4 linked regions of the Homo sapiens genome follow. The protein of the gene in region 4 interacts with the protein of the main gene of each other region in a pairwise test. Each region holds a gene or a part of one and is shown on either strand. Other genes may lie near its edges.

Evidence for each region. Proteins that work in one complex are often made in the same cells at the same time.
Region 1: the proteins of CACNA1A (region 4) and ABCA2 interact in a two-hybrid assay, tested with the Homo sapiens proteins (one study listed by BioGRID and IntAct).
Region 2: the proteins of CACNA1A (region 4) and PMM1 interact in a two-hybrid assay, tested with the Homo sapiens proteins (one study listed by BioGRID and IntAct).
Region 3: the proteins of CACNA1A (region 4) and C1QTNF1 interact in a two-hybrid assay, tested with the Homo sapiens proteins (one study listed by BioGRID and IntAct).

The regions. Positions count from the first base shown.
Region 1 is NC_000009.12:137,021,738-137,025,237, reverse strand, and holds part of ABCA2 (ATP-binding cassette sub-family A member 2), read left to right. Parts: intron 1-1,001; coding exon 1,002-1,095; intron 1,096-1,397; coding exon 1,398-1,400; intron 1,401-2,185; coding exon 2,186-2,297; intron 2,298-2,372; coding exon 2,373-2,536; intron 2,537-2,759; coding exon 2,760-2,887; intron 2,888-3,236; coding exon 3,237-3,347; intron 3,348-3,500. UniProt on the Homo sapiens protein: Probable lipid transporter that modulates cholesterol sequestration in the late endosome/lysosome by regulating the intracellular sphingolipid metabolism, in turn participates in cholesterol homeostasis.
Region 2 is NC_000022.11:41,579,841-41,583,340, reverse strand, and holds part of PMM1 (phosphomannomutase 1), read left to right. Parts: intron 1-3,500. UniProt on the Homo sapiens protein: Involved in the synthesis of the GDP-mannose and dolichol-phosphate-mannose required for a number of critical mannosyl transfer reactions. In addition, may be responsible for the degradation of glucose-1,6-bisphosphate in ischemic brain.
Region 3 is NC_000017.11:79,030,669-79,034,168, forward strand, and holds part of C1QTNF1 (complement C1q tumor necrosis factor-related protein 1 isoform 1 precursor), read left to right. Parts: intron 1-3,500.
Region 4 is NC_000019.10:13,499,980-13,503,479, forward strand, and holds part of CACNA1A (voltage-dependent P/Q-type calcium channel subunit alpha-1A), read right to left. Parts: intron 1-3,500.

The DNA.
Region 1 (3,500 bases), on a different chromosome or scaffold from region 4:
GAAGTGAGCAAAGCACCTCTTTCTCACTCCACGCAGGTCCCACTAGGGCTCACCTTGGTGCCCAGCCTGGGTTAGCAGGAGCCGACCTGGGGAAACTGAGCTCCAAGGCCCAAGACTGGCTGCCCCGGGTCAGGAGAGGGGACAGGGCAGAAAGAGGTGCCTTTGGGCCAGGTGTGGTGGCTCACGCCCAGGTGGGCGGATCACGAGGTCAGGAGATCGACACCATCCTGGCTAACACGGTGAAACCCCGTCTCTACTAAAAATACAAAAAATTAGCTGGGCATGGTGGCGGGCGCCTGTAGTCCCAGCTACTCGAGAGGCTGAGGCAAGAGAATGGTGTGAACTTGGGGGACGGAGCTTGCAGTGAGCTGAGATCGCACCACTGTGCTCCAGCCTGGGTGACAGAGTGAGACTCCGTCTCAAAAAAAAAAAAAAAAAAAGGTGCCTTTGCTTCAGGGACTGGGGCTGTTAGACCCCTTACCAGGTCTTCTCCGAGGCTCAGGGCCCTGGGCGCAGGCCAAGCCTCTCAACCAGGCCTCCTCATCTCCCCAGGCCCCGGTATTGGTGGGGAGGAAGTGGGAGGAAGGTGAACCCGGGGCAGTGTGGGAAGTGTAGGCGGGGCTAGTGGCTCAGATGGTCCCCAAGATTTTGCCCAGGTAGCCCTGGAGGTGGGGAGGGAGAAGATGAGCTGGGATATACATGGGTCAGAGTAGACCACAAGCTGGCCGATTTGTCCCTGTAGGCCCTGAGGCTCCTCAGAGGGCACGTAGGCCCAGTGTGGGCTGGGGACGGGAAACCTGATTTGCTGAGCCAGACAATCCTTACCCTCAGTGCCCTGGAAGGGGCTCAGACCTTCAGTGGTTCCGAAGGGCCTGTGCCCACCTTCCCTGGCCCCAGGGAGCACGTGGTCCTGTCTGGGCTGGGCCAGCCCTATGGGAGGCTGGGGAGGGCCTAGGCGAGCACAGGTCTGTCCTATCCCTCACTGGGCCCACCCTTTCCAGTGGGTCCTGGCCTTCGAGATCTTCATCCCCCTGGTGCTGTTCTTTATCCTGCTGGGGCTGCGACAGAAGAAGCCCACCATCTCCGTGAAGGAAGGTGAGTGCGGCAGGAGGCCCCAGGCACAGCCGGGGGAGCGCGGCACCTCGCACGCCTGCGCTGTGTGTGCACATCTGCACACGGGTGTCCTGCTCCCGGAGTCCCTGAGGTGCGGTGCCTGCTCCCCTGTGTGGTCCTGGGCCGTGCCTCCTGGCTGGGCTGTGGAGGTCGGGGCTGGCCTGTGGCCGCGAATGATGATGCCAACGCCTCTTCCTGGTGATGTGGGCACTCACTGGTCTCCTCTGTTCTGTTTTGATCCCCCTCCCTCCCCGCATGGTCTCTTGTCCTCGGCTGGCATGCAGTCTGTAAGTGAGCGGCCACCTCCTCCTGGCTGGCCTGGGCAGCAGCTGCGGGGGGCCCATGGGCCGTCCTGGCTTGAGCGCCCTCCCCGCTTGCATTAACAGCCCTCCCGGGCCCCCTGCCGGCCTCAGGAACAGCTGGCTCCAGATGGGGGGTGGCAGGCAGTGAAGTGGGAGGTGGTAGGGAGTGAAAGGCCCGGCCACCTAAAGGCACAGCTGGTGCCTGGGTCAAGCTGAGGCGGCATCTCTCTGCCTGGCCTTGCCTTCTAGGGCTGGGGTGCCTCGGCTTCTGGGCTGAGTCTGGGCTGAGGCTGGGCTGGCCTGGGCTGGGGCTGGAGCGGCCTGGCTACTCTCCCTTCATACTCCTTCAGGCTCTTGCACTCACTCTGCTAACCAGCTGGCCAGAGGTCAGAGGTCACTGCCCAGAGGGGGTCCTTTGTCCTCCCCTGGGCTCTGTAGGCAGTGCCACACCTGAAACGTTTTCGGGGGGAGAGTGCCAGGGCATGTGGGCCTGCACTGGCTGAAAGGAAAGGAATGCTCTGGGAGTTATGGCAGAAGGGGTGGTGAGTGGCTCTTTGACCTCTGACCTGCTGGAGTCATTCGCCCCAGAACGCTTGGCCTGTAGCCCAGCTGGGGCCAGGGCTCTGTGCCGCCTTCTCCCTAACGCTGCTTCTCCTTCCTGACTTTCTCTAAATTTCTCCTCTCGGCCTCTGTCTCCCTCCCCTTCTGGATTCCTCTCTCTCTCTCTCCCCTTTCACCCCCGACCCTGCCCTCTCCCGTGGGTCTGCCAGCCTTCTACACAGCGGCGCCCCTGACGTCTGCCGGCATCCTGCCTGTCATGCAATCGCTGTGCCCGGACGGCCAGCGAGACGAGTTCGGCTTCCTGCAGTACGCCAACTCCACGTGAGTGCCCACCCGCCCCTCGGAGCACCCACCCCTCCCCAGCCCATCCAGTGAGTGACATCCGCCATGGTGCAGGGTCACGCAGCTGCTTGAGCGCCTGGACCGCGTGGTGGAGGAAGGCAACCTGTTTGACCCAGCGCGGCCCAGCCTGGGCTCAGAGCTCGAGGCCCTACGCCAGCATCTGGAGGCCCTCAGTGCGGGCCCGGGCACCTCGGGGAGCCACCTGGACAGATCCACAGGTGTGCCCTGTGCAGGGAAGTTGGGGGGCAGGGCTGCGGGCAAAGCTCTGCTGTCACTGGGCTGAAGCCCACATCCACTCTGGGCCCCTCCACCTGCACTGAGTTCCCAGCCACGCACAGGCTGCAGTGGCAGAGCTGTGGTGTTGGGCTCGGCTCCGAGCGCATGTGGGGGCACCTTGCCAAGGTGCAGCGGCCTCTCAGCCTCGCCTTCCTGCCTGTCCAGTGTCTTCCTTCTCTCTGGACTCGGTGGCCAGAAACCCGCAGGAGCTCTGGCGTTTCCTGACGCAAAACTTGTCGCTGCCCAATAGCACGGCCCAAGCACTCTTGGCCGCCCGTGTGGACCCGCCCGAGGTAAGGCAGGGACAGCTCCCAGCCCTGGCCACTCCCTTCTGCCCCAGCCACGCCCCCTGGTTGCTGAGCCATCCTCAGGATGCTCAGCCTGAGTCACGCCCAGACCGTCTGAACCTTGCCCCCACCATCTGAGCCACGCCCCCACTCTCTGAGCCATGCCCCCACCATCTGAGCCACGCCCCCACACCTACATCGGAGCCACGCCCCCACCATCTGAGCCACGCCCCCACTCTCTGAGCCACGCCCCCACCATCTAAGCCACGCCCCCACACGTCCATCGGAGCCACGCCCCCACCATCTGAGCCACGCCCCCCACACCCCATCTGAGCCATTCCCCCACACCTCCTAGGTCTACCACCTGCTCTTTGGTCCCTCATCTGCCCTGGATTCACAGTCTGGCCTCCACAAGGGTCAGGAGCCCTGGAGCCGCCTAGGGGGCAATCCCCTGTTCCGGATGGAGGTGAGGGCATCCATGTGTGGGATGGGCCTGGAGTGCTGCCTGCCTCTGGGGGTGCTTCTGCTCCGTGGGTGAGGAAAGGGCCCCTTTGGTGACTTGGAGCTCCTCCTGGGAGAGGGGGAGGGTCCCAGGGGTCTATGGCAGGCATGAGGGGTA
Region 2 (3,500 bases), on a different chromosome or scaffold from region 4:
CCAGCTAATTTTTGTACTTTTTTAGTAGAGGCAGGGTTTCACCACGTTGGCCAGGCTGGTCTCGAACTCCTGACCTAAGGTGATCCGCCTGCCTCGGCCTCCCAAAGTTCTGGGATTACAGGCATGAGCCACCACGCACAGCCCATTAGAACCTTTCAAACATGTCAGCCGCATTCACCCCCCAGCCCCACCCCCTCATTTACAATCCTTCCTTGGCTCCTCGTTGCCAACTGGATGATGTCCTAGCCCCCTGCTATGGTGCCTCAAGCCCTGAGGGCTCTGTCTGGCTCTGGCTCTCCGCGTCTCCTTTCTATGCCCTTCAAGTTCCACTTTCTATTCCTGGAACACACCAAGGTCCTCTCACCTCTGCCTGTACTGCCCCTGCTAAACCTTGATGTGCATTTTGCTTTTCTCCCCACCGCCTCCCTCCCTCTCGGGGATGGAGCAATCCACCCATCCAGACCTTTCCATGCTGGCCCGTCCACGTCATTCTGTCATTCTCTCTGACCTGTTCGGTGGCTCTCCCTGCCCTCTGCTCCAGCTATGGCCTCTTGGCTGATTCTAGAGTGCTGTGCCTCTGTCAGAGCACACTTCTCTCAGGCCCAGCTCGTCCCTCCCCTCCTTCAAATCCCCTTTCACATCCTTTTCCCAGTGGGGCCTCCGAGAGTATCACATCCACTGCTGCACTTCCTCCTCCTTCCCCTACCTTATTTCTCCCCAAGTAGCCTTGGACAACTTTCATCATCTACTTTTAAAATCCGAATTACTGTCTGTCCCTGTCCCAGAACTGTAAGCTCCATGAGGGATTTCTGCGGCTTGTTCTCCTCTGGATCCCCTATGCTTGGCACATGGCATACTTTTTGTTGTTATTGTTTTTGAGACAGGGTCTTACTCTGTTGCCCAGTCTGGAGTGCAGTGCAGTGATCCAGTCCTAGCTCACTGCAGCCTCGATCTCTCAGGCTCAAGCGATCCTCACACCTCAGCCTCCTGAGTAGCTGGGACCACAGGTGCATTACACCATGCCAGGCTAATTTTTAAAATATTTTGTAGGGATGGGATCTCGCTGTGTCTCCCAGGCCAGTTTTGAACTCCTAGCCTCAAGTGGGCCTTCTCCCTCAGCCTTCCAAAGCACCAAGACTGTAGGTGTGAGCCACCGCACCTCGCAAAGAAATACCCTTTTTTGTTTTTTTTTTTTTGGAGACTGAGTTTCGCTCTGTCACCCAGGCTGGAGTGCTGTGGCACAATCTCGGCTCACTGCAACCTCCACCTCCCGGGTTCAAACAATTCTTCTGCCCCAGCCTCCCAAGTATCTGGGACTACAGGCACATGCTGCCACGCCCGGCTAATTTTTTTTTTTTAGACAGAGTCTTGCTCTGTCACCAGGCTGGAGTGCAGTGGCACAATCTCGGCTCACTGGAACCCCTGACTCGCTGGTTCAAGCGATTCTTCTGCCTCAGCCTTCCCAAGTAGCTAGGATTACATGCACCACAATGCCCAGCTAATTTTTTGTATTTTTAGTAGAGACGGGGTTTCACCATGTTGGCCAGGATGGTCTCGATCTTCTGACCTCGTGATCCGCCTGCCTCAGCCTGCCAAAGTGCTGGGATTACAGGCGTGGCCACTGTGCCCGGCCTAATATTTTGTATTTTAGTAGAGATGGGGTTTCACCGTGTTGCCCAGGCTGGTCTCGAACTCCTGAGCTCAGGCAATCCACCCACCTCAACCTTCCAAAGTGATTATAGGTGTGAGCCACTGTGCCCGGCAAGAAATACCTTTTGAATGAATGAAATGAGCTGTATTATCTCCATTTTATAAATGAGGAAACCAAGGCTCGATGAGAAGGGCCCTGCCCGAGGTCACATAGGGAGTTGGTTGCAGAGCAAAGATTTGATTTTGCCATTGGCCCTCTGGTGCCTCCCTGAGGGTGCCTCTCAGCTCAGTGACTCCTGACTCCCACCTGTGCCCTGAGGCTTAGGGGAGGCAGTGCCCACAGGCACAGGGACTTTTTTTTTTTTTCTTGATAGAGTCTTGCTCTGTCACCCAGGCTGGAGTGCAGTAGCATGATCTCAGCTCACTGCAACCTTCGCTGCCTAGGCTCAAGCAATTCTCCTGCCTCAGCCTCCTGAGTAGCTGGGATTACAGGCCCATGCCACCACACCTGGCTAAGTTTTTTGGTTTTGGTTTTGGTTTTGGTTTGGTTTTGGGTTTTTTTTTTTTTTTTTTTTTTGAGATGGAGTCTCACTCTGTCGCCAGGCTGGAGTGCAGTGGTGAGATCTCGGCTCGCTGCAACCTCTGCCTCCCGGGTTCAAGCGATTCTCCTGCCTCAGCCTCCCAAGTAGCTGGGACTACAAGCGCCTGCCACCACGCCCAGCTAATTTTTGTATTTTTAGTAGAGACAGGGTTTCACCATGCTGGCTAGGATGGTCTCGATCTCTTAACCTTGTGATCCGCCCTCCTTGGCCTTCCAAAGTGCTGGAATTACGGGCATGAGCCACCGCGCCCGGCCTAATTTTTGTATTTTTTAGTAGGGACAGGGTTTTGCCATGTTCAGGCTGGTCTCAAATCCCTGGCCTCAAGTGATCTGCCTACCTTGGCCTCCCAAAGTGCTGGGATTATAGATGTGAGCCGCTGCGCCCGGCCACGGGGACTTTTTTTTTGGGGTAGTTAGGATTGGTCTTAGGCAAAGAACCCTTCCCCCCCAATACACGTGCTGAGAAGTTATCCCTTCCTGTCCACCCAGGTTCCCAGTCCCAGCTCTACCCATTTGCCTTGTAACCTGGAAAAGCATCTTTACTAACGTGTGCCTCAGTTTCCTTATGTGTAAGGTGGGGGTAATAGCAGTTCCCATCCCATGGGCTGTCATGAGCACTGGATGAGGTGGCACATGGACCCCACCTGGCATGGAGTTGGGGAGCCACACCCTAACTCCCCACCCCAGAGCCTTCTCAAGTATTTTTGGCTCTTGTTTGCTCCCTTCTGGCACTGGAGGAGCATGAACCTTCCTGATCTGTGCGCCCTGCCCTGGCCCAGAGCTGGTGTAAATAAATGCTTAACCCAGCTCATCTTCCAGAACCCTGAAGCGGGGATGAGTACTTCCCTTCCTTAGATGAGGACACTGAGGCCAGAGGGTGAGTAACCAGCTCGAGGTCACAGTGCCGGTCCCTGCTGAGGCTGGCCTTGCACATGGGGCTGTCTAGTGACCAGCCTTGTTCTCCAGAGAAGGGAGGTGCAGCCAGCCTCGGCCATGTGGAAACATTTCTTCAGAGCCTGGGGCAGTCTTAGTGGTAGCCCTGGGCCTACAGAGTGGACGCTGGTGGGGACTCTGGCCTCCCTGGGGCCCACCTACCTGCTGGAAAGCCAGGCCAAGGCTGGCAGGGGGCTCACATCCCTTATCTCTGCTTTTCCATGAGAGGGAAGCAGGCAGGGGTCATTCATTACTTCTCTGTCCTTTAGTCCAGGAAATAGGCTCAGAGAGGTCAGGTGACTTGCCCATGGTCACA
Region 3 (3,500 bases), on a different chromosome or scaffold from region 4:
AGCTCACTGCAATCTCCATCTCCTGGGTTCAAGCGATTCTCCTGCCTCAGCCTTCCGACTAGCTGGGATTTTAGGCACACGCCACCACACCCAGCTAATTTTTGTACTTTTTAGTAGAGACGGGGTTTTACCATGTTGGTCAGGATGATATTGAACTCCTGACCTCAAGCGATCCGCCTGCCTCGGCCTCCCAGAGTGCTGGGATTACAGGCGTGAGCTACTGTGCCCGGCCCAAACATCTTTCCATGTCAGTAAATATTCACCTATTTACAGAGACGCCTAACTGGTGCTGCTGGCTGATTCTGCTCCCCAGTCCCTCCATATTATTTCTTTTCTTTTCTTTTTTTTTTTTTTTGAGATGGAGTCTTGCACTGTCGCCCAGGCTGGAGTGCAGTGGCATGATCTTGGCTCACTGCAAGCTCCACCTGACAGGTTCATGCCATTCTCCTGCCTCAGCCTCCCAAGTAGCTGGGACTACAGGTGTCTGCCACCACGCCCGGCTAATTTTTTGTATTTTTAGTAGAGACGGGGTTTCACCATGTTAGCCAGGATGGTCTCCATCTCCTGACCTCGTGATCTGCCTGCCTCGGCCTCCCAAAGTGATGGGATTACAGGCGTGAGCCACCGTGCCCAGCCCATATTATTTCTTTAAATGTCTTTAGAAAGAACGCGTTTACTGGTTTACCACAATCCCCATCCCTCCCTATTGCTGATTTCACCACTCTCATCAACCACCTTGTTTTTCTAGTTTCCATCATATGGATGGATGCACTGTAAATTTTTTGTTTTCTTTTTTTGAGATGGAGTTTCACTCTGTCACCCAGGCTGGAGTGCAGTGGTGCTATTTCACCTCACTGCATCCTCGCCTCCCAGGTTCAAGCAATTCTCCTGCCTCAGCCTCCCGAGTAGCTGGGATTACAGGCATGTGCCATGCCTGGCTAAATTTTGTATTTTTAGTAGAGACAAAGTTTCACCATGTCGGCCAGGCTGGTCTTGAACTCCTGACCTCAGGTGATCTGCCTGCCTCAGCCTCCCAAAGTGCTGGGATTACAGGCGTGAGCCACTGCACCCAGCCATGTATTTCATTAGACTGTCTTCCTGGACATGTAGGTGGTTTGTAACCTTGGTGAATGGAGGCAGTGGTTTCATCTCTTTGAAGCAATAGACTTTCTGAGTGCAGATAAGAGGAGCGTTTCTAGGGAAGATGGCTACATGGCCACACCAGGAGTCAGCACTCTGGTGACAGTGATGTACCTTGGATCTCTGTGTCCCCAGCTGGAATTAGAGAGAGATTTGGACAGGCTTGTGGCTGAGGCATGTCATCTTTGGACGATGGCTCTGTACTTGGGATTGATTGAAGGTGAGGAGAGCATTGGAGCCCTGTTGAGAGTTAGACACCGGATGCTGGTGATGCCTGAGAAATGAGATGGGGCTCCCATTTCCCAGGGGCTTGGAGTCTTGGGGACAGGACGAGGAAACCAAGGACTGTAGACCGGTTCGTCCGGATGCTGGGGGAGGGGCACCTACAGCACACCCAGGTCTGGGCAACTTCCCGGAGGAGGTGGCCTCAGGCTGAGCTCTGGAGAATACACGGATGGAGAAGGTGGAGGAGAAACAGGCATCCAGACAGAGGAAAGAGCGGGTGCCAGAGGACGAGACCTCAAGTGTGATCTGTTAGGGACTGAGTAGCTCCAGGGAGCTGGACTGAAAGGGACTCACGCGGGGTGGGGAAGGGCCAGATGGAAACGCTCAGGGCTTACTCCCTCCTTTACTGGCATAGGAAGCCCTTGGAGCCAGGGGTGGCATTCAGATTTGCGTTTTTCAGAGCTGCCTCTGGAAGCAGCGTGGGAGACAGATGGGAGGCAGAAAACCAGCCAGGGCTGGGGAAGAAGTGATGGAGAGGAGAGGAGACCTGCAGGGGGCTGGCGATGGATGAGATGTGGCGGGTGCAAGGAAGGTGGCATCCAAGTGGCTTGCAGGCTTCTGGCCCGGGACCCCGCGTGATGGCATGCATAGCTTTCACCAAGCTGCAAGCCACAGGAGGAGAAGCTAATGTGGTAAGGACGGGGGAGAAGGATATGAGTTAATTGGGGGCTTAAAAGCCTTAGGGCAGAGCAGCCTGGTGCGGTGGCTCACACCTGTAATCCCAGCACTTTAGGAGGCCGAGGCGGGTGGATCGCTTTGAGGTTAGGAGTTCGAGACCAGCCTGACAAACATGGCAAAACCCCATCTCTACTAAAAATACAAAAATTAGCTGGGCGTGGTGGTGGGCACCTGTAATCCCAGCTACTTTGGAGGCTGAGGCAGGAGAATTGCTTGAACCCAGGAGGCGGAGGTTGCAGCGAGCCAAGATTGTACCATTGTACTCCTGCCTGGGTGACAAGAGCAAAACTCTGTCTCAAAAAAAAAAAAAAAAAAAAGTCTTAGCGCAGAGCAAAGAGGAGGTGTTCAGCAGATGATTGCATATGTGGGTCTAGACCAGCGCTGCCCAGCAGAACCTTCAGCTGTGGTGCAAGGTGCTAAGAGCTGTGCTGTCTAGTATGGCAGCTGCTAGTCACGTGAGCACTTAAAATGTGGCTCCTTGGCCGAGAACTGGATGTTTCATTTTGTTTAACTGACATAGCTCCATGTGGCTCGTAGCCACTGTACTGACTTAAACATTTGCAAGCCCAGGTCTCAGCAGCCAGGTCAGTGGTGGGGACATGGAATGGGGCATTGTCAGCTGAAGATGTGGTGTGGACCAGGACAGGCAGAAAGAGGTCAGGCACGGTGGCTTCACGCTGATAATCCTACCCGCTTTGGGAGGCCAAGGCTGGAGGATTGCTTGAGACCAGCCTGGGAAACATAGTGAGATCCTGTCTCTAAAAAAAAAAAATTTTTTTTTTTAATTAGCTGGATGTGGTGGCATGTGCTTGTAGTTCCAGCTACCCGGGAGGCTGAGATGGGAGGATCACTTGGGTCCAAGGGTTTGAAGCTGCAGTGAGCCATGACTGTACCACTGCACTCCAGCCTGGGTGACAGGAGACCCTGTCTCCTAAATAAATAAATAAATAAATGTAGAATTAGGAGCAAGAGGAGCTGAGAGCTGAGGAACAGCCTGGGAGAGCACCTGTCTTTGGGGGTTGATCAGGAAGGCTAAACACTGGGAGACAGTGTGGGCCAAACCCCATGGCTGAAGAAGAGGGCAGTCGACATTGGCAGATGCTTACAGTGCGCACGAAAGAGGAATGCAGAAGGGTGTTGGGTGCCACGAGGGTCGTGGGTGATCGTAGCCAAGCAGTCGGGGCGGGGCCAGCAGGAGGAGGGCCAGTGGGATGCTGTGCTGATTATATTCCTGACCTAGAAGCCCCAGGCTGGGGATAAAGCCCTGTCTTATGCCAGGCTTCCTCAGGAGCTGCCTGGAAAATGCTGGGGCTTGTCCAGGCCCCAGACAACCAAATACGTTTGTGCTGCTTGTAAAGGGCTGGGTGCGACGGGGCACCAGGCCATAGAATTCCCAG
Region 4 (3,500 bases):
AGCCCTACGCACCCAACAGATGCCTCCCACTCCAAGTCCCTGAAGAAAGACTTCATTCTCAAGGGGCCGCTGCATCCAATCTACTCAAGCACTAACATTTCAGAAACTTTCATTGGTCTGATAATCTCATGGACAGTCTCTCAACCCCCTGCAACTAAAACCCATCAAAATCCTAAAACGTTGGCACAAGGGTAGATCAGATAGATGTTATACAATTTAGTTAATGGGTGAAGACAGGTACCTTTTCTCATTTGCTCAGCAAACGTTTATAGGACGCCTGCTTTGTCCCACACACTGGGGTTGCAGTGGTGAAGAACAGGGTAAAGATCATGGGTCTCACAGCCTCAGAGCTTGACTTTTTCCTGGGGAATGGTAGAACTACCAGGGAGGGGTGGAACCCCACCCAAGAGAACCCCTTCTTTCTCTCTCTCTAGTGCAGGCACATAGCTTTGAATGACATCCTTAATCTTTCTTATTTCTCTGACCGGGATTTAACACTATTACTTCCACTCCTTTCCATAGATCCACATCCTTAATCCTAAGCCATCGAGGCCAGACGTGCTTTGGAATTCAGAACTCAGGGCTTTTAGACGCATTGCAAAGATGGGAATGTAAAATGGTACAACCACTTAGGAAAACAGTTTGAGAGCCTCTTATAAAATTAAACATACACCTACCACACAACTCAGCAATCTCACTCCTGGGTTAATTTACCCAAGAGAAATGAAATGTATGAAATGAAATGTTCCCACTAAAACCCATAAGCCAATGTTTATAGCAGCTCTATTCATAATCATTGAAACTGGAAGCATCCCAATGTCCTTCGGCTGGGAAGCAAACTCTGGTCCATCCATATCATGGAATCCTGCTCAACACCAAAAAGGAAGGCGCTACTGTCACAGGCAACAGCATGAATGAATCTCAAAGTCTGAGTAAAAGAATCCACATTCAAAAGGCTATATACTGTGAAATTACATTTATATGACCTTCGGCAAAAGGCAAAGCTGTAGGGATGGAGAACAGATCAGTGGTTGAAGGGGCTGGAGAAGTGGGGTGCTGACTCAAGAGGGGCACTGTGGGGGTATTTTAGGGTTGATGAAACTGTCCCATATCTTGATTTGGGTGGTGGCCACAACTACATCCATTTGTCAAAGCTTGCAGACCAGTATGTCAAAAGGGTGAATTTTGCTACAAATAAATTATACATCAATAAATCTATTTTTTTTTTGAGACAGAGTCTCAAAAAAAAGTACAGTGGTGCAATCTCGGCTCACTGCAACCTCTGCCTCCCAGGTTCAAATGATTCTCCTGCCAGCCTCCCGAGTAGCTGGGATTATAGACGCACAATACCACGCCTGGCTAATTTTTGTATTTTTAGTAGAGACGGGGTTTCACCATGTTGGCCAGGCTGGTCTCGAACTCCTGACCTCATGATCCACCGGCCTCAGCCTCCCAAAGTGCTGGGATTATAGGCGTGAACCACCAGACCCGGCCCCTATAAACCTGATTTTTAAGGAAAAGAAAAATGATAACAAGATGTCTCTATGATCTAACCTGGATACTCCAACCCTAGCCCATGAACTTACCACATGGGGAATCCCTAGAAGCTAGCTAGAAAAGCAGAATCCCAGACCCCACCCAAATCCTGCTGGACCAGAACCATCCTGTTAACAAGACAACTTCCATACACCTGAAAGTTTGACAGGACTACAATGCAGACCTAACAGTCAGGAGCTGAAGCAGCACCTCATCATCAAGCACATCTAACATTTCTGCTGCAAAACATACTCAAATGCACACCAAGTAGAATGAATGAAAACTGTAAATTAAGACTTCAAACTGAAGTCAGTTCAGGTTAGGTTTTACCTCTATATGAGCTCGTCTTTTGGTTTTTGGAGCTTTTTGGATTGGGGAATTGTGGATAAGAAATTGCACCCTTTTTGAAAATACTCCCATTGGAAAAGCCGTGCTAAATTTTACTTCGCAGAATTTTGCTCCTCTGGAAATACCAGCCAAGCCGGTCTAGTACAAGGATCACGTAAGTGACACCATCCTGCCCTCTACGGCAGTACCTTCTAGAACATTCTATCTCTCAGGACAGGCCAAGAGTCTGATAACCTGCTCCCATGTCTCCCAGCGCTTCTCATGCAGAAAGTTTCTCTTTAGAGAGCTTTTCTTAAAAAAAAAAAAAAAAAAAAAAATGAGAGGAGTGCCAATCAGCCAATGTCCACAGATGTCAAAGTGATGTCACCTGATGTCAATGTGACTTTAGGTGTCTTGTTAAGATTTCTGCAAACCGGATGAAAAGCTGGAATTCTACGTGTAATTCAGGCAACTGTGCGTGATAATACACTGACCTGCTTCCAGTGTTCCTCCGATGGCCTGAGTTTCTACATCATGTTCAGTGGGAGACCTGGTGGCACAGGGAGGGCTGGAAAGATGACATTCACCTTGGCACTTGGTAGAAGGAGTGAGTGGCATTAAGTGGGGAGGGAACTCTAGGAAGGCTGACAGATGCTCCTTTTTGAGCTGACAGATCTGAGCTCTTCGGCAATCATCAGAGACCCTCATGGCCCTATTTGAATCACAATTCCAGTCAATGAAAACATGAAACCAAGGTGTGTGGTCAAGACGGCTTGCTGCCTGGCATGAGAAAAACACGGCAATGTAAATTTGAACATCAAAGACTTCCATTTGGGTTTCCTCACTTAGGAAGAGGGGAAAAAATGAAATAAATGAGGATTCTTAATTGTCATTGATGGCTTCAAGTTTGACCCACTGAGGGATGAAAGAGGAAGAAATCATAGTGACAAATTGCCCCGAGTGTGGAGAAAGCAAGACTGCATCCTTCACCAGTGTACCATGCCAGAATTTACATTTGGAAGTAGCACTCTTAGGCCCTGTGAGCATACCGACAAGTTCATGGATCATTCACTCACTTCTCTTAAACAAGACAGGGAGGAACCTGCTTTCCATATCGACCTGCAACCCTTAGTCAACACCATTTCCAAATACACATCCCACAACACATGCATCAAAAAGTAGCAGGGGCGATTCCACTCCTATCTAAGAGAACTGTGGGAAAAAAATAATAGAAGACACAAGAATGTTCCCAGTGGCACAAACAGAAATGACACAAATGCCCATCAACAGTAGAATGGATAGATTGTAGTAGAGTCACATACACAGATGTGAGCAAAAGAAGCCAGTGGCAAAAGAACGTACTGTGTGACTCCATTTACATGTTTAAAAGAGGCAAAATGAACCTTAGAAGTCAGGTGAGCGGTACCCTTGTTGGGGGAGCAACTAGGAGGCGGTATGGGGAGGGGGACTTCCAGGGCACTGATCGGGACCTGGGTGCTGGATACGTGGGTGTGTTCATTTTGTAAAAATCTATGCATCTGAATATATGTACTTGCCTGTACATATATTAGACTTTATTTAAGTACCTACACACTTTTTTTTTCACTCTCAGGATATGCTGAAACATTTTTTTTTAA